Linked DNA regions of Homo sapiens: regions 1, 2, 4 and 5 are each reported to be linked to region 3. Evidence: microRNA targets listed by miRTarBase, many of them from high-throughput screens and not tested one by one. Region 3 holds a microRNA gene; each other region holds the end of a gene's coding sequence.
Evidence for each region. Region 3 holds the annotated microRNA hsa-miR-485-5p (AGAGGCUGGCCGUGAUGAAUUC, at 2,234-2,255, opposite strand). A microRNA usually pairs through its seed, bases 2 to 8, with sites in the 3' UTR of a target mRNA and lowers its output. Matches are read on the target gene's strand: a 7mer-m8 pairs with bases 2 to 8, a 7mer-A1 pairs with bases 2 to 7 and ends in A, and an 8mer does both.

Region 1: the mRNA of FLOT1 is a reported target of hsa-miR-485-5p. Seed matches in the 3' UTR shown: 8mer at 615-622.
Region 2: the mRNA of VPS26C is a reported target of hsa-miR-485-5p. Seed matches in the 3' UTR shown: 7mer-m8 at 1,544-1,550, 7mer-m8 at 1,721-1,727, 8mer at 1,961-1,968 and 7mer-m8 at 1,998-2,004.
Region 4: miRTarBase lists ZNF43 as a target of hsa-miR-485-5p. Seed matches in the 3' UTR shown: 7mer-m8 at 2,438-2,444 and 7mer-m8 at 2,283-2,289.
Region 5: miRTarBase lists C1orf174 as a target of hsa-miR-485-5p. Seed matches in the 3' UTR shown: 7mer-m8 at 3,735-3,741 and 7mer-m8 at 3,601-3,607.

What each region holds. Positions count from the first base shown.
Region 1 is chr6:30,723,604-30,728,707 of GRCh38, reverse strand. It overlaps FLOT1 (flotillin 1), which reads left to right. Exons shown (of 13, transcript NM_005803.4): 13 at 563-999. The coding sequence ends at 592. TUBB (tubulin beta class I) reads right to left here. Exons shown (of 4, transcript NM_178014.4): 4 at 3,286-5,104. The coding sequence ends at 4,311. Among named protein-coding and RNA genes, the nearest start is that of TUBB, 5.8 kb to the right of the region's middle.
Region 2 is chr21:37,221,336-37,226,428 of GRCh38, reverse strand. VPS26C (VPS26 endosomal protein sorting factor C) reads left to right here. Exons shown (of 8, transcript NM_006052.2): 8 at 803-3,007. The coding sequence ends at 885. DSCR9 (Down syndrome critical region 9) reads right to left here. Exons shown (of 3, transcript NR_026719.2): 3 at 4,693-5,093. Among named protein-coding and RNA genes, the nearest start is that of DSCR9, 15 kb to the right of the region's middle.
Region 3 is chr14:101,052,578-101,057,681 of GRCh38, reverse strand. MIR485 (microRNA 485) reads right to left here and starts at 2,263; the gene lies at 2,191-2,263. MIR382 (microRNA 382) reads right to left here and starts at 3,376; the gene lies at 3,301-3,376. MIR134 (microRNA 134) reads right to left here and starts at 2,995; the gene lies at 2,923-2,995. MIR668 (microRNA 668) reads right to left here and starts at 2,424; the gene lies at 2,359-2,424. It also overlaps MIR323B.
Region 4 is chr19:21,803,077-21,808,180 of GRCh38, forward strand. ZNF43 (zinc finger protein 43) reads right to left here. Exons shown (of 4, transcript NM_003423.4): 4 at 1,870-5,104. The coding sequence ends at 4,531. Among named protein-coding and RNA genes, the nearest start is that of ZNF43, 31 kb to the right of the region's middle.
Region 5 is chr1:3,885,856-3,890,959 of GRCh38, forward strand. C1orf174 (chromosome 1 open reading frame 174) reads right to left here. Exons shown (of 4, transcript NM_207356.3): 3 at 4,714-5,104; 4 at 3,278-4,218. The coding sequence ends at 4,105. Among named protein-coding and RNA genes, the nearest start is that of C1orf174, 12 kb to the right of the region's middle.

The DNA.
Region 1 (5,104 bases), not on the chromosome of region 3:
AGCTGAGGTCAGAAGTTTGAGATCACCCTGGCCAACATGGTGATACCCCATCTCTACCAAAAATACAAAAATTAGCTGGGTATGGTGGCGCATACCTGTAATCCCAGCTACTCGGGAGGCTGAGGCAGGAGAATCACTTGAACTCAGGAGGCGGAGGCTGCAGTAAGCCAAGATCGCACCACTGCATTCTAGCCTGGGTGATAGAGTGAGATTCCGTCTCAAAAAAAAAAAGAAAAAAAAAAAGCGTATGTAAATAAAAGCACTGGATCATACCAATGACCTTCAAGCTGGGTTCCTTGGAGCCTCCTGGAGGCCTGCAGTAGAATATTCAGAGCTAAGGAGAGTGTGCAAACAAGGCTCTGCCCCCTCTCCTCTCTTCAGTGATTTATTGTATGTGGGTCCTGATGTCTTTGTTTGGGGAAACAGGTGGTAGGGCACCAGAAAGAACCCTGGCCGTGTGTGTTCTGCCTATAGCCCATTCGTCTAAACTGGGGCCCGGGAGAGTAGGGGCCTCAGCCTCCCGAATGTTCCCAAGTGTCATCTACTGTTGTCTTTTTGCCAGGTGAATCACAAGCCTTTGAGAACAGCCTGAGCCTTCAGCCCTCACAGATGCCCAGCCTCATAGCTGAAGTTGCCTGAATGATCCTCCTGTTGCATGTAACCCACTGGCCTCCCTGAGCATGTCCATTGACAGTGAGGTCCCACCCCTCATCTCTCCTTGCCAAATAGTTTGTGCCTTGTCTTGAAGGGGGTTGCTCCCCTTGCCAACCTCACACTGCTATGATTGCCAACTCCAGCGGTCCCATGTCAGCCTTCTGATGATCCCACTCCACCCCACCTCAACTTATTTAACTTCCTAATTAAATCAGACTGTTTGAGCCTGTTGTCTAGAATATTTTCCTGACCAAGACTGAGGGATGGGCTGGAGGTTTTCAACTTTGCTACCCAAATAAATTGCTGTAAGTAAGTACTAATAAAACAGAAGCAACTGGAAATTAATGCTTGGCCCGGCACAGTGGCTCATGCCTGTAATCCCAGCACTTTGGGAGGCCAAGGCAGGCAGATCATCTGAGGTCAGGAGTTCAAGACCAGCCTGGCCAACATGACGAAACCTTGTCTCTACCAAAAATACAAAAATTAGCCAGGCAGGGTGAAACATGCCAAGTAGTAGTCCCAGCTACTTGGGAGGCTGAGGCAGGAGAATTACTTGAACCTGGGAAGCAGAGGTTGCAGTGAGCCAAGATCGCACCACTGCACTCTAGCCTAGGTGACAGAGTGAGACTGTTTCAAAAAAAAAGAGAAAAAAAATGAATGCTAGACTCAGGTATGGTGACTCTTGCCTATAGTCCTAGCTACTTGGGAGGCTAAGGTGGGAGGATCACTTGAGCTCAGGAGTCTAAGGCTGTAGTGAGCCATGATCACACCACTGCATTCCAGCCTGGGTGACAAAGCAAGATCCTGGCTCTATTAGAAAGAAAATGAATGCTAGAATGTAGCTTCTTCCCTTGCATACAATAGGCTTTCTTGCATACAATAGGCTTTCTAGAATGGGAGAAAAGCAAGTTACTTATATACTGTCAAGAGTTTTAGAGTTAATTTTTCCCCCCAACAGTGTATTATAGTCAGAAAAGCATGCTAAAATAGAAGGAATGTTGGGAATAATACTAGTTCCTAGAATTCCTGAAAACATGGCAAAAGGAATTATTGTTTTCAGGGTAGCTTTGAGACTTGCATTGTGAACTTAAAAGTATGAGGTAGTAGATGGTACAGATTGTTTTAGAATGGGACCATAAGGTAGCAATCCCGCCTAGTTATCCTTTTTTTTTTTTAAAGACAAGGTCTTGGGCTTGGGCCGGGCACGGTGGCTCATGCTTGTAGTCCCAGAACTTTTTGGGAGGCTGAGACGGGTGGATCACTTGAGGTCAGGAGTTTGAGACCAGTCCTGGCCAACGTGGTGAAACCCCATCTCTACTAAAATACAAAAATTAGCCCGGCGTGATGGTGGGTGCCTGTAATCCCAGCTACTTGGGAAGCTGAGGCAGAATTCCTTGAACCCGGGAGGCAGAGGTTGTAGCGAGCCAAGATCGCGCCAATGTGCTCCAACCTGGGCAACATAGCAAGACTCCATCTCAAGAAAAAAGAAAAAAAAAGACAAGGTCTTGCTCTGTCACCCAGGCTGGGGTGCAGGGGTAGGGTCAGGGCTCATTGCAGCCTCTACCTCCCAGGCTCAGGCAATCCTCCCATCCAATCCCCACCCCCCTACCCCCAACAACCACCACCCCCCTCTACCCCAGCAGCTGGGACTACAGGCATGCACCACCATGCCCAGCTTTTTTTTTTGTTAGATGGTTCACTGCTGCCCAGGCTGGTGTGGAACTCCTGGGCTCAAGCCATCCTCCTGCCTCGGCCCCCCAGAGTGCTGGGATTACAAGTGGGAGCCACCATACCAGGGCTTCACTAGTTATCTTGGTGTCATAGGTTGACTAAGCCCACAGGATCACAGGAAATGGCCATGGGTACACATAACCCAAAGGAATCCTGGGCTGGGTGGCCAAGGCCAGTTCAACCATTTATGGTTCAGTACATCTGGGTGGGATGAAAAACTTGCATTTATTTCTGCAAGTTCCCAGAGGATGTGGATGCTGGTCTGGAAACCAGTTACACGTGATTTGTCATTCTTCTCAGCTTCCATTTTCCATCCCTGGATCCTGCATCTAAGCCTATGCCTTCCCCAGTTAAGACTCATTGGTGGGCCTGGTGCACTGGCTCACCTGGCTTATGCCTACAGTCCCAGCTGCTTGGGAGAATGAGATGGATTGTTTGAGCCCAGGACATCAAGGCTGTAGTGAGCTGTCAGAGACTACAGTAAAGACTGACTGGTGCTCAGAGCAGTTTGGGTACCAGAAACAATGATGTGAGGGTCTATAAAGCAGTCAGTGTCCTTACCAGTACCTCCCTGAGATACCAAATCGGCAGACACCCAAGTCCCTCATATAAAATGTAGTACTTGCATATAACCTGTGTACTTCAAATCATCTCTACGTTACTTGTAATACCTAATCTAATGCAAATATTATGTAAATAATTTATACTATTATTGTTTAGGGAATAATGAGAAGTCTATACATGTCCAGTACAACTCTTTTCCCAATATCCAGTTGGTTGAATCCGTAGGACAGGGACTCAATATTAAGTGTCAATTTAAGGAGAGCAGTGCAACTGAACTCAGGCCCCATGCCTCCATCAGCCAGCCGTGTTTCCCTAAATAAGCACACATCTCGCAGCTTTTTTCAATTCCCATTTATTTTTGGCTCTTGGGGCGATGTCATCTTTTCAATATGAAAAAAAGCAGCAAGTTCAACATAAAATAGAAATCTCAAATGTAGGATAGAACAAAACCAAGTGTGTGAGGGGGGAAGCAACAGCAAAAGGAAGAAATGAGATGTTGCAAAAAAGATGGAGGAGGGTTCCCCTCTCCTCTGGGGACTGACTCAAACACTGATGTGGCAGTATACACCACTCCAGAGTCAGGGGTGTTCATTCTTTTTTGGGAGTAAGAAAAGGTGGGGATTAAGAAGACGTTTCTGGAGGCTTAGGGACCAAGGCTGGTCTCTTTCCCCCCTCCCAACCCCCTTGATCCCTTTCTCTGATCAGGGGAAAGGAGCTGAGTGAGGGAGGTAGAGTTGGAAAGGGAAGGATTCCACTTGACAGAGTGGGACAGACTCCTCCAGAGTAGAGCTTGGAGGGAGATTGAAAGTGGAGATAATACTGCTGACACCTCCCTTGAAGCTGAGATGGGAAATGGACATACTTAGAAATTTAGTGACTTTAATAGCCTGGATTTCCCTCTCCAAAACTTTTAGAATGGAAAATCCCATCCCCTTCCTTATATAGTGACTTCTACCCACTACCTTCTACCATTTTCTACTTTGGGCTTAGGATGATGGCCATTATCTACATGTGTTTTCAGCACCTGGTTGGTTCTAAATGGGATCTGGAGACCCAGCTTCTTGGAGATTTTTAAGAGGAAGTATTAACTGGACAAATGGAATGGGCACCAGAAAGAAATACAGGGTCACCCAGAATGGCAGAAACCTAGGTTTCCCAGAGTGGAAAGAGAGAGGAGACATTCAACAAACAAGTATTTATTGAGCGCCTACTATGTGCCAGGCACTGTTCTAGACCCCCCCCAGAAGAAAAAACAAAAAACAAGATAGAGGCAGCAAACACAAATTCTGAGGGAGAGGAAAGGGGCAGTTGAGTAAGACGGCTAAGGGAACTGAGAAGCCTGAGGTGATGGGGGCTCTGCCTTAGGCCTCCTCTTCGGCCTCCTCACCGAAATCCTCCTCCTCTTCTGCGGTGGCATCCTGGTACTGCTGATACTCAGAGACGAGGTCGTTCATGTTGCTCTCAGCCTCGGTGAACTCCATCTCGTCCATGCCCTCGCCTGTGTACCAGTGGAGGAAGGCCTTCCGGCGGAACATGGCAGTGAACTGCTCCGAGATGCGCTTGAAGAGCTCCTGGATGGCTGTGCTATTGCCAATGAAGGTGACTGCCATCTTGAGGCCACGAGGTGGGATGTCACAGACGGCTGTCTTGACATTGTTGGGGATCCATTCCACAAAGTAGCTGCTGTTCTTGTTCTGCACGTTAAGCATCTGCTCATCGACCTCCTTCATGGACATCCGACCACGGAAGACAGCAGCCACGGTGAGGTATCGGCCGTGGCGGGGGTCACAGGCAGCCATCATGTTCTTGGCATCGAAGACCTGCTGGGTGAGTTCCGGCACTGTGAGAGCTCGATACTGCTGGCTTCCACGGCTGGTGAGAGGGGCAAAGCCAGGCATAAAGAAATGGAGACGTGGGAAGGGGACCATGTTGACTGCCAACTTGCGGAGGTCAGCATTGAGCTGGCCAGGGAAACGGAGGCAGGTGGTGACACCACTCATGGTGGCTGAGACAAGGTGGTTCAGATCCCCGTAGGTTGGTGTGGTCAGCTTCAGAGTGCGGAAGCAGATATCATAGAGGGCCTCGTTGTCAATGCAATAGGTCTCATCAGTATTCTCTACCAACTGATGGACGGAGAGGGTGGCATTGTAGGGCT
Region 2 (5,093 bases), not on the chromosome of region 3:
TCTTGTGGCTGATGTTTGGGCGGAGGTGGACACTCCCACACGGGGATGTTGTCCTGCAGACCCCAGCCACAGGTGGGCACTGACTCCAAGGCCCCTTCCACAGCTGAGCTGCCACAGTGTGGGGCTCAGCACAGGGTGCCCTCTGCCCACACGATGCCCTTCCCACCCCTCCTCACACTGGGGAAGGAGATGGTGCTTGTTTGTCGTCAGGTGCTTCCTCTTCACACACATCCCTTTTGTTAGGATCAACAAGGCTCACCCATATCAGCTGAAGAGTCGGTGGAGAAGGAATCCTGTTTGCTGAAAGGTGATGGATGAATAGTATCCAATGGAGCAACAATGAAATTGTTGCTTCTGAAGACTGTTTCTCACCTGGGGATTGGGGACATGGGCCCAGACAGCTATGCGCTGGTTCACAGTCTGCTATTTCATTAAGAACCGTAGGAAATGTAAAAATAAGGCAAAGGAATACAAATGAATTGAAAGGGTTCTAGAATATCCTTTTTAGGAAAGCAAAGGGACAGGGAAAGTGTAGTTGGTGAAGCCTGATCACTCATGTTCCAAGATGAGAGGACAAAAATTCACTTAGAGAAAGTTGACAGAGGTAGTCAGACATCAGCATAGTCATCTCCACTGAAAGTTTGGCTGAAAGGTCAGGGTGGCGCTGAGGGGACAGCAATGAAACCCACCCGCACCGGGTGCTCCTTCGCCGTTAGAGCTTCCTGCGACTGCAGTGGTGGCGGCGTGTGGTTTCGCTGCTTGGTAACAGTGAGCACAAACCCACCCTCTCTTCTCTTCTCAGAATTTGAGGTTAACATCGTGGTGCTGCTTCACCCTGACCACCTCATCACGGAGAACTTCCCGCTGAAGCTCTGCAGGATATAGCCCGGAGGAGGGAAGCATAGAGAACGGGAGTGGCCATCTGGAAATCCAGCTGGTTATCCAAATCCTAAGGGGAGCTACAGCCAGCGGCATATACTTGTTTTTGTGATTATTCTGTATCAGAAATGAAACAGACCCTCAAATTAACTTTCCTTCCTCATTTCTTGAGGCTTCTGCTTCCAACAGGCACCTCTAATCAGACCTTTTCTTTGAAATTCAACAAGATTTCTTAATGCTATTTGCCAAGACCATTTCACAGAAAACATTGACTGTGGCTCTTGCCTTATCTGTTCCTTTTTAGGTACAGTAAAACAATTGTGACAGCAGTTTGAGCTTGCTGGAGAGTGGCATCATGGGGACAAAAGGAAACCTCTGACTTGCTAATGGATGTAGCCAGGGACTCCCCATAGCAAAGGGTCTGTGGCCAGTTGACATCCAGGATGGCTGCAAGCGCACTTGATGGTCAGGAAGTTTGCAGATACTCGCCAAGGCAGAGCGCAAAGTGCTAGCCACTGGAAATGCATGACTTCCCTCCACCCCTACTCTATTCTGTAGTTTTTTGGTTTTGTTTCTGAGACGGAGTCTCAGTCTGTCACCCAGGCTGGAGTGATCTCAGCTCACTGCAACCTCCACCTCCCAGGTTCAAGCGACTCTCCTGCCTCAGCCTCCCGAGTAGTTGGGATTACAGGTGACTGCCACCGTGCCCGGCTAATGTTTGTATTTTTAGTAGAGACGGGGCTTCACCATCTTGGCCAGGCTGGTCTTGAACTCCTGACCTCGTGACCCACCCGCCTTGGCCTCCCAAAGTGCTGGGATTACAGGTGTGAGCCACCACACCCAGCCTCTGTAGTTCTTTTTACAACATTTTTCATTATAACTTTAAATTTTTTAAGCAACTGGAAAAGTGTTCCTTGCTCTCTTGGGGGGATTTGGCTGGTGCCGAAGTGTTTCTGAAGTCTCAAGAACTGCCATAAAATCTCACGCTGCCATTTCCCTGAACAGATACATACATAGAGAGAGACAGTTTTCCAAACTGTGTCACGCAGGCTGAGTGCACTGGCAGGATCACAGCTCACGGCAGCCTCAACCTCCCTGGCTCAAGCGATCCCTCCCCTCAGCCTCCTGAGTAGCTGAGACTACAGGTGAGTGCCACCACACTCAGCTAATTTTCAAATTTTTTGTAGACAGGGTCTCCCTATGTTGCCCAGGCTGGTCTTGAACTCCTAGACTCAAGTGATCCTCCTGTCTTGGCCTCCCAAAGTGCTGAGATTACAGGTGTGAGCCACTGTGCCCAGCAGTTTCCCAGAATATATTTAAATGCAAAGTTACATGAGGGGAAAACATGTATGTTTGCTCCTGTTGTTACTGGGTAGGTTCTGAACAGCAGAAACCCATGTGCAGGGTGGGCTGGTGAAGGCCCCTCTCCGCAAGGTGGTAGCAGGAAAAGGTCCTTGACTTGATGAATTTGGTCTGCCTCTGAGCCACTGGAGGAAGCTGTTTTGAGCCAGGGTTTTTTGGCCTAAAGCCAGCATTTCCTCAGTCTCCCTTTGTGGTTCGAAGGATATGGACTATTGCAATACATTTCTTCCTTCAAATCCTGCCACTGTTTTGTTGGCCCACAACTAATAGGACCTCAAAATAAGCCATGCTGCTTTGCACACACACTAGCCTTCTTTTGTACTTTTCATTCTGGATGGGCTTGGCCAAAACAGGCTCAGGCCAAAGACCTCCCAAGCTGTATGTACTTCCAGTATCCTGAAACAGTGTTTGGTGACATAATGCCAAGGGTAAACAAGCCTGATTTAGGCACTGCTTTATCCAGGGGCTTCACCCATGAAATTAATAAAACTTATCTGAGTCACTTGAAACTTGGTTCCCAGAAAACACATTTCTGGTTTATAATCTCCTTTTATGCTCACCTGACATTAATTATCTATCCTTGATGATGTGTTTAAACTGAGTAGCAGAAAACAGAGGCCACACTTTCTGGGAAATTTTAAAGGAAGAAACCATTTTTAATGAGATGAAAATATTTAACGAATTTAAAAAGCTAATGACAATTTTGAGAAAAGGTTTGGGATGTATATTGCTATGTAATTTAATAAACTGATTTTATGGATATAAATATGACTGCTTTCCTTAGAGAATAATTATTACCTGAAGCGCATCCAGACAACGTGGCTACCTTTATCATTTCATTCAACCCTGAGTGGCCCAAACAAAGGCCTCAGGCCGGCCACTTCCTTCCACTTCTTGGTCTGACCTCTCCATGATCTGTTACTAGGCAAAACTCAGATGTTTGGCTACCTTGGGCTGCAACTGTCCCACTCTTGCCCAGGCTTGCTGGAGTTGGGGTTATCCACAGTCAGAGGTTCAGAGTTGTCAAATTCTCCAATTAGAGCAAGAGATGAGGAAAGGAAAGGGAGACGAAAGAAAGAGGCTGTGCCTCAGAAATAATAACGCCGCATATCTACAACTATCTGATCTTTGACAAACCTGAGAAAAACAAGCAATGGGGAAAGGATTCCCTATTTAATAAATGGTGCTGGGAAAACTGGCCAACCATATGTAGAAAGCTGAAACTGGATCCCTTCCTTGCACCTTATACAAAAATCAGTTCAAGATGGATTAAAGACTTAAACGTTAGACCTAAAACCATAACCTAGGCATTACCATTCAGGACATAGGCATGGGCAAGGACTTCATGTCTAAAACACCAAAACCAATGGCAACCAAAGGCAAAATTGACAAATGGGATCTAATTAAACTAAAGAGCTTCTGCACAGCAAAAGAAACTACCATCAGAGTGAACAGGCAACCTACAAAATGGGAGAAAATTTTCGCAACCTACTCATCTGACAAAGGGCTAATATCCAGAATCTACAATGAACTCAAACAAATTTACAAGAAAAAAACAACCCCATCAACAAGTGGGTGAAGGATATGAACAGACACTTCTCAAAAGAAGACATTTATGCAGCCAAAAAACACATGAAAAAATGCTCATCATCACTGGCCATCAGAGAAATGCAAATCAAAACCACAATGAGATACCATCTCACACCAGTTAGAATGGCGATCATTCAAAAGTCAGGAAACAACAGGTGCTGGAGAGGATGTGGAGAAATAAGAACACTTTTACACTGTTGGTAGGACTGTACACTAGTTCAACCATTGTGGAAGACAGTGTGGCGATTCCTCAGGGATCTAGAACTAGAAATACCATTTGACCCAGCCATCCCATTACTGGGTATATACCCAAAGGACTATAAATCATGCTGCTATAAAGACACACGCACGTGTATGTTTATTGCGGCATTATTCACAATAGCAAAGACTTGGAACCAACCCAAATGTCCAACAATGACAGATTGGATTAAGAAAATGTGGCACATATACACCATGGAATACTATGCAGCCATAAAAAACGATGAGTTCATGTCCTTTGTAGGGACATGGATGAAATTGGAAATCATCATTCTCAGTAAACTATCGCAAGAACAAAAAACCAAACACCGCATATTCTCACTCATAGGTGGGAACTGAACAATGAGAACACATGGACACAGGAAGGGGAACATCACACTCTGGGGACTGTTGTGGGGTGGGGGGAGGGGGAGGGATAGCATTGGGAGATATACCTAATGCTAGATGACGAGTTAGTGGGTGCAGCGCACCAGCATGGCACATGTATACATATGTAACTAACCTGCACACTGTGCACATGTACCCTAAAACTTAAAGTATAATAATAAAAAAGAAAAATTGCTTCAAATGAACAACAAAAAAAAAGAGGCTGTGAACAATGAATCTAAAACAATATTTTCTTTTGGGAAATGCCCGTTTTGGCAGGAATACATTTTGGCTCCGCTGTGCTGTGAATTCGGAGGAAAAGTAGGGAGGGCCGGAAAGCCCAGGGCTTCATGCAGAGTAGACATCAAGAACCCACCTGCTCTGGAGTCTTGGTGGGCAAGGGGAACGAACCTTCCAGTCCATTTCTACCGTCACCATAATTCCTGTGTCTGAATCTGAATCACCTTCTTCAAAAACTGGGGGCTGAGGTTGCCTCCACATGCTAACGCTGATTCAGGGCGGCAGCAGATGCTGGTGTTCTCAGTTCCTTCCTGCTTCCGCTTCCTGTTCAGGAACAGGGCCGCATTTTCCCATCCTCTTCGGCTGTAGGCGTGGTCACGTGACCAGGAGGGCGGGGC
Region 3 (5,104 bases):
AATAGTCCAGGTAAGTAAGAGCTACATGGAGAAGCCACATTAAGACAGCTAGTGAAAGCCTCAATGCAAAAAACAGTGGACAATAGCTATAAATTTCTGAGAAAAAACAAGTAGGCTGAGACTTTTATACCTAGTTAAGCTGTCCCTTGTGCATAAAGAGATATATACTCTCAAATGCACAGGAACTCAAGGGTAGTGTCTATGAGCTATTCTCACAGAAACAATAAGATCATTTCCATTGAGAGATAAATTAAACTTAAAAACTAAAGAACGGAGAAACCTCAGTTAAAAAAAAACAAACCTTGTGGTCAGAAATGAATTCATTTAAATATAGAACTATGGCAAAACACCTGCAAGAATTATAGTTCTAGAACAAATTGCAGATATTTATAATGTAAAATTAAAATGTATAATTGAGAAAAAGCAGGAGATAGTAAGCAAAGGAAGAATAAGAATGCTGACTTCTTTATCTTTCTGAACTAGGAGTGAAATTGAAATAGTTAAAAACCATAACAATCCTAACCACTTAATTTTTACACTCTAATTTTTCTTAATTTTACAGGGATCTTTTAGGAGTTGCTACCTGTGGTGGTAAAGCGAGAAACATTTATCAATCATTTCAATCTCCTTTAGCTTGTTTTTTATGATAAATTCAAGGAAAATTATAGTTAGCATTTTTAATAAAATGATTAGGTACAGTGTGATCTCATATTTTCCCTGCGTCTGTCTTGTTTTTCTATTTGCATGTATGCTCAGACAGGTGTATGAAATTTCTAAAGCCCTTAATGGTTATTTCTGGGTGCCAGAGAATTGGGCAATTTTCCTTCTTTTTCATTTAGATTTTTCCACATCGCTTGAATTTTATTAAGCATGTGTCATTTTCATAAATATGGTAATAAGGTAGAATAATTATCCTTTTTGAAAAGAAAAACAAGAAATTGAAAATGCAACTGTCTTCTGTTCTTAAATTTGCTGTGGCCTCCAGATCAACAGATGTGGTGAGTCACCCTTCCAGTGAGTCCCCAAGAATGCTGAAATCAACGCCCCTTCCCTGAATTTGTCAACATGTCTAAGAAGTCCTTCCTCCATGGTAAGATTTAATAGTGAAAGAGAAGAGAACTATACATTGTTTTTCTTTAAAAAAAAACACAAAACCCCAGAAGCATCATGGGCACCACCACTTCCTCAGTCACAGAGGGGTCTTGAGCACAGATCACATGCTTCTTCCCCAGGAATGCACTGGCTGAGGATTAGGAGTGCTAGCAGCACCTACCCATTGGTTCCAGGGCCACACACATGTTCAGTTGCACTGGTGTGGAACCAACATGAGTATGGTGTCCCCTAAATCGGCATCAGGTCCAAGAAGACACCTGGTGAGATCTGATACCGAAAAGAGGTCGACCGTGTATTGGGCATCATTAAATAATGCGAACTCACCACGGACAACCTCCCTCCGAGTACCATGAGGTGGCACTGCTCGCAGCATTCCTGCATCTTCTGCACAGCCTGGGCAGCTTGGGAGTGGCCTCTGAGGGTGGATGGGACCCTGAGGATGAGTGGACCAGGTGGCTCAAACCCATGCTCTCCGGCCAACCCCAGGTTCACCAAGCCAGGATTAGTGTGCACAGAAATACCACTTCTTGTGCTCAGCTGGCCATGCAGGCAACATTTAATAATGCAAGGATGTCAGTGGCACAGGAGTCATTAAATATGAAGCAAACCACACACAAATGTGTGTGCAAAAGCAGGCTAAGCACTGCCTCCTTGGTAAACCTGGGATTCCCTTACAGGAATTCTCTGGAGGGTGTAAGGCTGCTGTGGGTTAGTAAACCAGGGGTCGCACAGAGTCCTGTTCCTGTTTTCTTCTGTATCCCGACGGCTGACTAATAAAAGATGCTTCTAGATGCCCAAGATTCAACTCCAAGGTTGAATTTGATAGGAATAAAAAAAGAAGTCAGCCATGTGTATTTCAATCTTAACTTTTAAAAAATTAGGGCATCCCAACAACCTCTCTCGATTTTCCTAAAGTTGGTAGTGCCCCAGGAAGTTGTTTTAGGGTCAGCTTGGACTCTAAAGTTAGTAGGTCAGTTACATGCATCCTCAGGAAAATGCTTGCCATGGGGTCAGCCATCCAGAAACCTACCTTGGAAGCAGCACTGGCTCAGGAAGCCCTCCGAGGCAGAATTTGACACTAAAAGAGAGGAGAGCCGTGTATGACTCGCTTTGATGAATCGAATTCATCACGGCCAGCCTCTCTCCAAGTACCACACATGAACACTGGTGAGAAATCCATTGCCTCTCTGGCAGAGGTGGCCGCCCTTCTCGGGAGTCCTGTTAGGAATGGGTGGGATAGTATTGGGTAGTGGGCCGAGCCGAGTGACATACACCCACATTAAGTGCATGCTCACCCGAGGCGCACTTACCTTAAGGGAGTGCTGAGGGCACTGCCTTCTCCCCAGCAGCAAGGATGCAGTTCGTCCTTCCAGACAAGACAGGGAGCTTTTGCGTAGCTCACTGGTCCCTGACAGGAGAATCATGGCCGCTTCCCAAAGCCGCATTATCTCCATGGAGCCTCCTAGGGAGAGACAGGATGCTGGGTATTAGAGGACGACGTGACAGACCTAACAAAGGCAGCACATGCTCTGGGAAGAAGGATTCAGTCACACACCCAGGAGAAAAGCTGGCCCACATCAGGTCCCTCAACAGAAGACAACATGGCGTCCCACATCGGAAGTCAACACTTCAAGGAGGCTGTCACAGTGGTGAAGGGGCTGCCAAGGCTGACTCATTGCATTTTAAGTAAACATACACCCCCAAGAGCACGTGTCATCGCAGTCCACCAAGCAGTCACAGCAAGTCCATGGCCGCTTCCCCAGAGTTGGTGGGAGCTCTGGAAAGTCTTCCTGGAGTGGGAGTGATGCTGAGGGTTGGTGACTAGGTGGCCCACAGGGTGAACACAGTGCATGCCCCTCTGGTCAACCAGTCACACACCCTGGACGGTGCTGACACCAACATCTCTTCTGGAAGTCGGCCTGGGGCCCAGGGAGCCTCTCTTCAAAGTCTTGTGAGGTGACGCTGGTGACAGAACCACAGCTGATTCCCCAGAGTTGGTGAGACCCATGGGAAGACCTCCTATAGGTGCATGGGAGGCTCGGATTATCGGGCCAGGTGACTTACAGCTAGGTCAGCGCATTGTCCATGGCCCGCCATCCATTCTTGGCTTTTCCACATGGTTGACACAAAGACTATCTTTCCTGAAGCTGCCATTGTGTCCAGGAAGTCCTTAGAGGTAGCATTTGGTACTGAAAAAAGTGTTGTCCGTGAATGATTCGTCATAAGTAAAGCGAATCCACCACGAACAACTTCTCTTCAAGTACCACAGAAAAGCAGAGACAAGACAGACAAGGAGTCCCCTTCCACTTCTCCAAGGGGAGTGGCTGCCAACCACCATCCTGTGGACAGAGTGGACACCGAGCATTAGTGAGGCAGCTTACGGGTGTCCTAGGAACACACTGGAGTTTGGGCAACCCTTCACTCACCTCCCTTGGAGTGGTGCTGGCACAGTCCCCCTTCCCTGGAGTTGAAATTGTGGTCCTGAATCCACACGCACAAGGTTTAGAAATAAGAAGAGGGAAGCCACTTGTCACACGCCAGGAGCACTCCGCAGTGTGTAGACCCCAGGGTTTCTGAACAGGGCCTTGGACTTCTCAACAGAGCACACTGAGTTATCCATCAAGCACATCAAGGTGCCAGCCAGGCTCCCGCAGGGCCCACTGAACTAGGGAGGTCCAGAGGGGGCCCCCTTTTGCCACTGCAGGTGCCCCTAGAGAAACTGCCCAGCTCAGGCACGCCAGGCTCCTGGTAGGTTCCCCATCACTGCCCTGGGTAGATTCTCTATCAATGCCCTTGTGGTCAGAGTGATCTTTCCAACACAGACCACGCATCCCCCCTGCTCACAACCCTTCCAAATCCCCCATCTCACTCAGAATAAAACCTGGAGTCCTGCCTCTCCCAGCTCAGACCCAGCGACTCCCAGCAGCTCGGTTCAATCCCACTGGCCTTCTTGCTTTTTCTTAAAGATGCCAGGGGGCTTTCCATGGGCCTTGCCCTCCTCCTGAAATGCTCCTACCCCAGACCTTCCTCTGGTCCACCCCACTCCATTCCCACCCACATCCTCAGAGAGAGCTTTCCAGACCCCTGTATTTAACACAAAGGTCCACCTGCTTTTACCTCTTTCTGTCACTGTAACCCGCTTTCCCTTTCCCCATAAAACCTAGCAGTGGACAAAATTACGCTTCCTAATTCATGTGTTCTCATCCGTCTCTTCCACCAGAATGTAAAGTCCACATGAGCAAGAACTTGATTTCATTCACTGCTCTCTGCTAAGGTCCAGAATCACCTAGAACACAGTGTGCACTCCATCACTATTTATGGAATGACCAAGTCATTCCTTGTTATTTGATCAACTCATGAACCATGTAGTTATGCTATAAACAAAAGAATCTGATTTTTTTAAAAAGAGAGAACTTTATCGAAACAAAATCATGGTGGCCAAAGTCACCAACCCTCTCAATAGCCATTATGGCCATGGGCAGGACACAGCTCTGGCAGGAGAGTGAGCTCAGGGAGACGCCTCAGAAACAAAGCTCAGACTGCTCAACTAACTCTCCACAAACTCCAACAGATGTGGATGCCAAGTCTCCCCAGAGGGCGGTGCTGCTTCCAGAAACCCTTCCCTGGCAAGATTTGGCACTCAAAAATTCTGCCCTGGAACAAAAGCAATAATGATGACCAATTACCTATCAGTCAGTCCGGCTGATGACAGTAACACTACCGAGCCAGCATGTCTCCAGAGATTCATCTTACCAAGGGTGAGGGTCACTTGGAGCAGGTGACAGACGTCTTGTGTGAATGGGCCTCTCACTGGTCAACTTCCCCCAATAATGTAGTGCAGACACCAAAGCCCCTTCCAGAAAATCACAGCCTTAGAAGTAACCATCTTCCTCAGAGATTCGATTCTGGTCATGGCTGTGGCACATGAAGAAGCTAGTGCACTGCGATGGCCCGTTCACATACATACCTTGGGTGGGAGGTGAAGCCAAGA
Region 4 (5,104 bases), not on the chromosome of region 3:
ACAGACAAGCCTTGGAGAAAATCTGAATGGTTTTCTTTGAAATACTTATAGTAGGGTTGTTAGGTGCTTTTTCTGAGGCCTATTCTGCTCTCATTTTAGGTGGCCTCTATCAGCAGAGACTGAGACATACATAGTGGACAGCTGTGAGGACCCTGGGCAAGGGAGATTCAGAAGGCATGGGTCAGGGACTGGTGGAAACACTAGTCTGCTAGAACTCATTAGGAAGTGAAGCCCAGCATTTGCATAATGCAGCTGTGAAGGCGTCTGGTGATCATAAATGTCTCCATGGCCCTTCTCAGCCCACCAATGTGCTCCAGCAGCCACTCACACAGCCCTGCATGCAGGTTTGTAGGTAGTCCTGTCAGATCTGCTAGAATCAAGACCTTATAGTCCAGGTCTCAGTTTGAAGAAAACAGCTGTCTACCCACTCTTGTGAAAAGATTCTGTGAAATTTAACTTTGCATTGCAAGTGTTTGGGAAACAGGTGTAGATTTCTTTGAGGATGCTTACAAAACTACAGTTGTTTTTTTTGAGATGAAGCCTCACTGTCGCCCAGGCTGGAGTGCAATGGCGTGATCTCGGCTCACTGCAACCTCTCCCTCTGGGGTTCAAGTGATTCTCCTGCCTCAGCCTCCTGAGTAGCTGGGATTACAGGTGCATGCCACCACGGCCAGCTAATTTTTGTATTTTTACTAAAGATAAGAAAAATGTTCTCTCCACAGTAAGAATCAATATTATTTCATCACTGATATTTTCCGTCTCTGACTTGAAGCTACCAACTAACTCCAGCAGAAATGTTTTTGGCTTATTATGGACAATCTGTTACACAGCAAGCACCATCATGCTTGTTCACTATATTTATGTATAGAAACATCCTCATAAGGCCAGGCGCAGTGGCTCATGCCTGTAATCCTAGCACTTTGAGAGGCTGAGGTGAGCACATCACAAGGTCAGGAGATGGAGACCATCCTGGCTAACATGGTGAAACCTTGTCTCTACTAAAAATACAAAACAGAAAATTAGCTGGGCATGGTAGTGTGTGCCTGTAGCTACTCAGGAGGCTGAGGCAGGAGAATTGCTTGAACCTGGGAGGCAGAGGTTGCAGTGAGCCGAGATCATGCCACTGCACTCCAGTCTGGGTGACAGAGCAAGACTCTGTCTCAAAACAAAACAGAACAAAAAAACTTCAGAACTTATGAAGCCTCCCTAGTATTTACCTGAACTAATTAGCTCAATAAATTTACATATGTCAATTATAGAAAGTGAAATGAACAATAGCTAAAGTAGGTTTATATAGAAGTCTCCAATTAAATAAACAAAATCGAATATCCTAACTCAATATAACTTAAAACACTAATTGTGGAATTGCACCTAAAAATTATTTTGTGTGCACAACTAAATTTCATAAAAATCATTCTTATAATCCCCAGTGAGCTTACATAATACCTCATAAACTATAAAAGAAAAAATAATAAAAAAGAAAATTATGGGTCTAGCATGAGTACCAAGCAAGTAAAAAAAAAGTTTGCATGGGGAGATTCTGAACCATAAACCATAAGATCTTACAGTAATGAATTCAATAGAAAGCAGACAGTATAGATTTCCTTTCAGCATTTTTGAGGTTTTTAGTTTTCTAGTAAATTAGTCACCTTATTAAAATTACTTGTTTTGCTTCAATATTGATTTTTTCTTCCTAAAATAGGTAGACACTCATACAAGAACAGTTACTTACTCCATAATTTTCTTACACCTAAGGTTTATCTTTAGAGTAATGTATGTGTATATTTAACCCTATGTAAGTCAAAACTAAAACTCTGTATGTGTTTCAGGCAGAGCGGCCACATAGTCAAAGAAAAATATATACCAATGTTTATTCATGACTCAGGAATGTATGGACTTTATTTATACTTCTATATAATTTTTATAATTAAAATGACCCTGTAGTCAATAACAATTTAATTGTACATTAAAATAATGAAGTGTAGAATTGGCTTGTAATACAAAGGATAAATGCTGAAGGTAATAGATACTTTATCCTGATGTGACTAATACATATTATATGCCTGTATCAAAACATGTTATATATTGCATAAATATATACACATTTGGCCAGGTGCAGTGGCTCATGCCTGTGGTCCCAGAACTCTGGGAGGCCGAGGCAGGCAGATCATGAGGTCAGAAGATCGAGACCATCCTGGCCAACATGGTGAAACTCCATCTCTACTAAAAATACAAAAATTAGCCTGGTGTGATGGTGGACGCCTGTAATCCCAGCTATTCGGGAGGCTGAGGCAGGAGAATCACTTGAACCGGGGAGGTGGGGGTTGCAGTGAGCCAAGATCATGCCACTGTACTCCAGCCTGGGTGACAGAGCGAGACTCCATCTCCAAAAAAAAACCCAAACAAGTAGTGGGCGCCTGTGGTCCCAGCTACTTGGGAGGCTGAGGCAGGAGAATGGAGTGAACCTGGGAGGCGGAGCTTGCAGTGAGCCAAGATCGCGCCACTGCACTCCAGCCTGGGCGAGAGCAAGACTCTGTCTCAAAAAAAAAAACCAAACAAACAAAAAAAATTATGAATAGCACAAAGAATAAAATAAGGTAATTAAAATCATACTATGTACCCACAGAAATTAAGAACAGTAAGTTTAAATAAGACAAAAAAGAATATTTAACCTATAGAAAAATATTCTTTAACTTATTTGCAGTTGAAAGCCACTGGTGAAATAGATTAATAGAAATGTTAGTCCATTATGTTACCAAATAGTATATTGTTACCATCTTTTACATACACTCTTGAGTAAGGTGAAATAGGTTAAAGTTAGAAGCATAATAATGCTTCATTGAATGTACAATGGTCTTAACACATTTTTTTAAAAGTTATATTTACATGTAATCTAAAAATTTAAAAATGTACATTTAATTACATAAAATTACAATAAGTAAAATGACTTACTAATTTAACCAATTTTAACTAAAATAAAAAACTTTTGTCACTATAATGCAGAAGAATATTACTCTGAAAACCTATCTCCTGCATCACTCCTTTATAAGTTAACCACAAAGAGCCTCTCCAGTTACATTTTCATCACGCATCTTTTTTTTTTTTTTTTTTCTTTTTGAGATGGAGTTTGACTTTTGTTGCCCAGGTTGGAGTGCAATGGTATGATTTCGGCTCACTGAGACCTCCACTTTCCAGGTTCAAGTGATTCTCCTGCTTCAGCCTTTGAAGTAGCTGGGATTATAGGTGCCTGGTAAATTTTTGTATTTTTAGTAAAGACAGGGTTTCACCATGTTGGTCAGGCTGGTCTCAAACTCCTGACCTCAGGTGATCCACCGGCCTCAGCCTCCCAAAGTGCTGGGATTATAGGCATGAGCCACCATGCCTGGCTGCATCTTACACTTTAATATCCTTACTGTTCCATAAAAAATGTTTTAAATAATGCCCACCTAATAAAAGAATCTCTCATATCTTTGGTGCAGCAACAATTGGTCACATGCTTTCACATGTGAATATAGCAGGAATGAAAAAAGAGCATAAAGTTATTTGAGAGTTTAATTACATCATTATTCACTAATTTAAAAATCAGTAATTTTTTCAAGATAAAAGTATACTTTAATTGTAATTATAACTGAAAATCTTCTACTTCTTTTAATGTTATATACAAATAATTTATCCACCAAGTTTTATTTTGTGTTGTTTTCTGTACTTAGCACTGATTTAGTGTAATGTCTGAAGTGTCCGCGCCTTAGATATTTCTACTGTGAATTCTCAGATATTTACATAAACTTAATTTCGGATTAAATTTTTTTCATTTTTACTGCATCTGCAAAAACATATTTTAGTATGAACCCTGTGGTGTTTTCTATGCTGTGGTTTTTTTAAAAATGTTTTTCCAAACTGATTACATTTGTAGGGTTTTTCTCCAATATAAATTCCCTGATGTTGAATAAACTTTGTACTATCAACCAAGCATTATAGACCCTCATGTTTTATAAGCTGTAGTTTTTCAAAACTGTTTTTACAAATTTATTACATTTTCCAGGGGTTTTTTCCAATATAAATTTTCTGATGTTGAACAGTATTTGAGCAACTGCTTCAGGGTTTTCTTTAGTACAAAATGTGTACAATAAGATCTGTGATGCAAGTAATGGTACTACAACCCTCTTAATATTTGTAATGTTTGTCTTCAGAATGAATTATCTTCTTCACTTTAAAGGCTTTTATTTTCTGAAAGATCTTTTGACACTAGTTGCATCTATAATGGTTTTATTAAGTACAGACTCTCTGATGTTGAGTAAGATATGAGCACATATTAATGGCTTTTCCACATTCTTTGTGTATATACCTTTTTCCAAGTAAAAATTCTTTCCTGTGCAATAAGGTACGAGCATTAATTAAAAGTTTTGCCACATTCTTCACACTTGTAGAAGTTTACTCCAATGTAAATTATCTTACCTACAATCAAGTGTGACAACCATGTAAAGCCTTTATCACATTCTTTACATTTCTAGAATTTCTCACCAGTATAATTTATTTTATGTTTGAAAAAGTTTGAGGTGTTGTCAAAATCACTGTCACATCTTCAGGTTTGTAGAGTTTCTCTCCAGTATGAATTTTGTTATGTGTAGTAAGGTTTGAATATTGGTTGAAAGCTTTGCCACATTCTTTACATTTGTAGGGTTGCTCTTTAGTATGAATTCTCTTATGTGTATTAAGGTGTGAGGAATAGTTAAATGCTTTGCCACATTCTTCACATTTGTAGGGTTGCTCTCCAGTATGAATTTTCTTATGTTCAATAAGGTTTGAGGATCGGTTAAAAGCTTTGCCACATTTTTCACATTTGTAGGGTTTCTCTCCAGTATGAATAATCTTATGTGTAGAAAGGGTTGAGGACAGTTTAAAAGCTTTGCCACATTCTTCACATTTGTAGGGTTTCTCTCCAGTATGAATTATCTTATGTTTAGTAAGGGTTGAGGACCACTTAAAGGCTTTGCCACATTCTTCACATTTGTAGGGTTTCTCCTCAGTGTGAATTATCTTATGTTTAGTAAGAGTTGAGAACTGGTTAAAAGCTTTGCCACATTCTTCACATTTGTAGGGTTTT
Region 5 (5,104 bases), not on the chromosome of region 3:
AGCTGCTCTGTTTAACAGCCACAGACGTGGGCCTTTTTCAGAGACACATTCTTTTGTTGTCTGTCTGTTTTTTAAGACAGGGTCTTGTTCTGTCATCCAGGCTGGAGTGCAGTGGTGTGATCTCAGCTCACCGCAGCCTTGAACTCCTGGGTTTAAGTGATTCTCCTGCCTCAGCCTCTGCAGTAACTGAGACCCCGGGCATGTGCCACCATGCCTAGCTAATTTATTTTTATGTTTGTAGAGATGGTCTCACTATGTTGTCCAGGTTGGTCTCAAACTCCTGGGCTCAGGCGATCCACCCACCCTGGCCTCCTGAAGTGCTGGGATTACAGGCGTGAGCCCCTGCACCCGGCGCAAGACACATTCTTGAGGGAAGTCCTTCCTTCTCAGCGGTCCAGGCATGCTGTGCCACCTTGCCCTGGACACACAGGGCGGCTATCCCTCTACCACGTGGCTCCACGGTGCTGCCCCACTGCCTACGACTAGGCCTAGAAGGTTTTGTGTCCCTCAGGCTTTCTGCGCCATCCTGCTGCCGTTGGGCCTTGTCCGTGCCCCTCCTCACCCTTCCTGACTTGAGGCTTCATTTCTGCAGGAGTTGAGACACCGGAAACCCAGGCTTGTTGAGCTGTGTGTGAAGCGTGCAAGGCTCTCCTGGCTGTGACATGGTGTTTTGGTTGTTTTTTTCTTGCTTCCGGGCCCTTGGCTGGGCAAGGTGCTGGTGATTGTTACAAAGAGCTATCACCTATCAGGAGTTATGTCACCCAGAGTCTCAGGTTAGAAAAGGTGGCTGAACCTCTGCAACAAAGAAAGAGTGTGTGGTCTGTGCATTCTCACACAAGAGGGAGAAAAGTTCTAGGAGCTAAGAGTGTGGAATTCTGTGATCTGTGGGGCTGAGGGTCACCTGCTGGGAGGTCCTGGCATCAGTAAGAAGCTTCCAAGGGAAGAGCCCAGTAAAGGCCTGCAGACGGCCTCAACCAGCTCAGTGCCAGGCTCCATCCAGACGGCAAAGCTGCAGCAAACACGACCACAAGACATGGCCCTCCTGCAGCTCAGGAGGAAGCGCTGTAGGCAGAGCCACAGTCGGCCTGCGCCAGGGGGTGTGCGTGAGCACAAATACACTCTTTTGTATCTTATCTTTTATTCCCTCATTCGCCCCCCTTTGGTCAGTCCCCCTAGGTCTGTGCAGGCTACAGTCCACATGTAGACTAGGAAGTGTTTCTACCTGGCAGTGCTTGTTAGTGCAGGTTAACCACTGTGAGTGAATAGGGGTGGCCCCAGGAACACACACACTTTCCACTCTGCGTGCTGCGTCTCCTCTGCAGGTGTATCATCATTTGGGACAGTGCACCTCACTGAAGTCTGCTTAGAGGATGGCAAAATTCTCGTCACCACCAGGATAGGTGCTGTCATTTAAAAAAAAAATTTTTTTTTAATTTTTTGAGACGGAGTCTCGCTCTGTCACCCAGGCTGGAGTGCAGTGGCGTGATCTTGGCTCACTACAAGCTCCGCCTCCTGGGTTCACGCCATTCTCCTGCCTCAGCCTCCCGAGTAGCTGGGACTACAGGCACCTGCCACCACGCCCGGTTAATTTTTTTTTTTGTGTTTTTAGTAGAGAGGGGGTTTCACCAGGTTAGCCAGGATGGTCTCGATCTCCTGACCTCATGATCCGCCCGCCTCAGCCTCCCAAAGTGCTGGCATTACAGGCGTGAGCCACCGCGCCCGGCCAGGTGCTGTTATTAATAGTTATTCATGCAGCAATCTGAAGTTGTACTTTATTTATTTATTTATTTTAGAGGCAGAGTCTCGCTCTGTTGCCCAGGCTGGAGTGCAATGGCGTGATCCCAGCTCACTGCAACCTCGGCTTCCTGGGTTCAAGTGATTCCCCTGCCTTAGCCTCCCAGGTAGCTGGGATTATAGGCGCCCACCACCACGCCCGGCTAATTTTTGTATTTTTAGTGGAGACGGGGTTTCACTATGTTGGCCAGGCTGTTCTCGAACTCCTGACCTCAGGTGATCTGCCTGCCTCAGCCTCTGAAAGTGTTGGGATTATAGGCGTGAGCCACTGTGCCCGGCAAAAGTTGTAAATTATTTTCCCTGGCTACCATAAAATGACTTTATAAGCCACATTTCCAAATTATAGTTTGTTGATCAATAAATCACAAAGTTATTCAAAACAGGTGAAAGTCACAGCTCATGAGAAAAGGATCACATTAGAAGTGGAGAATGACACCTTCAGGGAGGGCAGTGTTTGAATAGTAAAGAGCGGAAACACTTCTTACAGGGCACTTCAACTATATTTTGCTTCCAATTTATCTGTTATAGAAAATCCTTCCTGTGCTTCATAGGACATTTTCACAGGGTTAATTCTAGCTGCTCTTGTAATTAAACCAGAAACATATAAAAGCTCAAAACCAGCAAGACTCACTTGTTCCCTCATGAAAAGGCCCAGTCTTCCCACATCGCAGGCAACTTCTCCTTGTCCTTGGTCACCCGGGGACCCCAGCTTGCTCCTGGTTGGTCCACTCAGCTTCTATGTGCAGGTGGCGGCAGGAAGAGGCCATGGAGAGAGCACTCCCAATGGCTTGTCTCCACTGCCCTGGGCGAGAACACACGGTGAGGTGCTCCCTGACGCCGCTGGGGCTGGGGAATGCAGTTCTCGTCAGGCAGCTGCACACGGACCTCTCTATGGCCTGGAGGAGAGCATGGCCTTCGCTGGATGGCTGACCGTCTCCACCACACAGGATAGGAAAGCCCGACACTTCTGCAGCAAAGTGGGAGTGGAAGTACACTCGAGAGAAGGGAAGAGGCCCTGTCCCGGGGGCCTCGGTGGTTAACAGGTCTAAAAGATGGACCCGTGCCGGGCGTAGTGGCTCACGCCTGTCATCCCAGCACTGTGGGAGGCCGAGGCAGGCGGATCACCTGAGGCCAGGAGTTCGAGACCAGCCTGGCCAACATGGTGAAACCCCGTCTCTACTAAAAATACGAAAAATTAGCCAGGCATGGTGGTACATGCCTGTAATCCCAGCTACCTGGGAGGCTGAGCCTGGAGAATCGCTTGAACCCGGGAGGCAGAGGTTGCAGTGAGCCGAGATTGTGCCACTGCACTCCAGCCTGGGCAACAGAGTGAGACTCAGTCTCAGAAAAAAAAAAAAAAAAGATGGACCCAGCCTTATGAGCATTTGGGAGCATGAGACTGAGGCAGGATGTGTTTCCTCTACTCGGCTCCCAGGCATTGAGAAAGGAATCCGGTTTTACGAACATACGACTGCTTTCAAAATATTTTCAAAATATATTTTATTTCTTTCTTACATGTATTTTGCAAAATTTCCAAGGTAAACATTAGCTCCACATACAGAAATAAAAGAGTTCTTTAAGAACTAGCATTGAATTCATCACAAGAATCATCAAATTATGATAATGGAAAACAAACTTGCCTATGACCAAAGCTACTGAGCTGAAGTGAAGAGCTGTCTTTACAAAGATCCCTCTCATTAAGCCCACTGCCCTGCAGCTGACTCAAGCCATCATCATGTATGTACGTGTATAAGAAAGGACACTGGCCGGGCATGGTGGCTCGCGCCTGTAATCCCAGCACTTTGGGAGGCTGAGGCGGGCGTATCACGAGGTCAGGAGTTTGAGACCAGCCTGGCCAACGTGGAGAAACCCCCGTGTCTACTAATAATACAAAAACTAGCTGGGTGTGGTGGTGTATGCCTGTAATCCCAGCTACTCAGGAGGCTGAGGCAGGAGAATCACTTGAACCCAGGAGGTGGAGGTTGCAGTGAGCCGAGATTGCGCCATTGCACTCCAGCCTGGGCGACAAGAGAGAAACTCTGTCTCCAAGGAAAAAAAAAAAAAAAAAAAAAGAAAGGACATTGGCACAGTACAGCAGCTTTGCAACCTCAAAGATGGTTTGAGTTTTAGTTCCCATGAGTACATCCTCCACAGGTATTGGGTGCTTTGCACTATTGACTTAGATGGGTCAGTTCTGAAGTTTGATTAAGACATTCTCTTGGAGATACATTTTATATAAATCTTGTAATGTGCTAAATTGTCAAATTGTTAATGGTACTAAATACTCAAGGACATTATTTTGTATGGCCCCTACATTTCTGCATCATCGTCGTCGTCATCATCATCATCTTTGGCTCTGAAATGCATTTTTCTGAACTCTCGTCTGCTCATTGAAGGACAAGATGAAGACGCAGGTGGGAGGTCCTTAGTGGAGAAGAAAACATGACTTCAGTCATGAGCAATACATATCTGCACCCGCATTTGCAATGTGCCCCACCCAGCGGCTCTAGGGCTCGCAGAGCGCTCTTCCCTTTTAGACGTGTGAAAATGCCTGAGTCCCAGCACTCGCCTCTAGATGAGAACTTCCTCCCTACTGGGCTGATCGAGTAAAGAGAAGGAAAGGTGCTGGGTTCAAAACAAAAGAAATTAACAGCAAGCGCGGGGTGGATGTTCAAAAAAACCACAAACCTGATTTCATGGAAACACACCTTTCCCGAGAGCAGTGATTCTCAGCTCGGGAGATGCAGGGAGAGCCCCCAATTAGCCAACGGTTTCATTTTCTCCTCGTGGGTTAAAATGATTAGTTTATGTTTAATGTTGTGTCGAGGCATTATTTACCTGCACTGAGTGGGGAGTGTGTGACCTGAATGTGCAGCTGCTGCCTGAGTACCCACGGGAGGAGGAAGGCGCCGCTCTTACCTGCATGAGCTCAACGTTTCCAAAGAACCGGCTCACGGGCATTGGCTGATTGCTGTCGTCATCTAGAAAGACGCTGTTGTCCATCTGAAGTGGTGGCTTCTGCACATCCTCTGTCTGTAGCCCTGGCTCATTCTGCTTCTGCACAGTGGAGCTGCTGTTGGATTCTTCTGCTCCGGACCCGGCACTGTGTTTTGGCACGGACAGGCCATCTCTAGTCTTTGCTAAGCGAGAGTCACTCACAACTCTGCAGCCACCGAGAGGAAGACTTGCAGCCCCCTGCTGCACAGAAACGCCAGCCTCGCTGCCTGGAAGCAAGGCACTGCCTTCAGCAAACTCATTTTCACAAGGGGTCTCAGGTGTCACTTTTGGCAAAGAAGCGCTGTCATTCTTA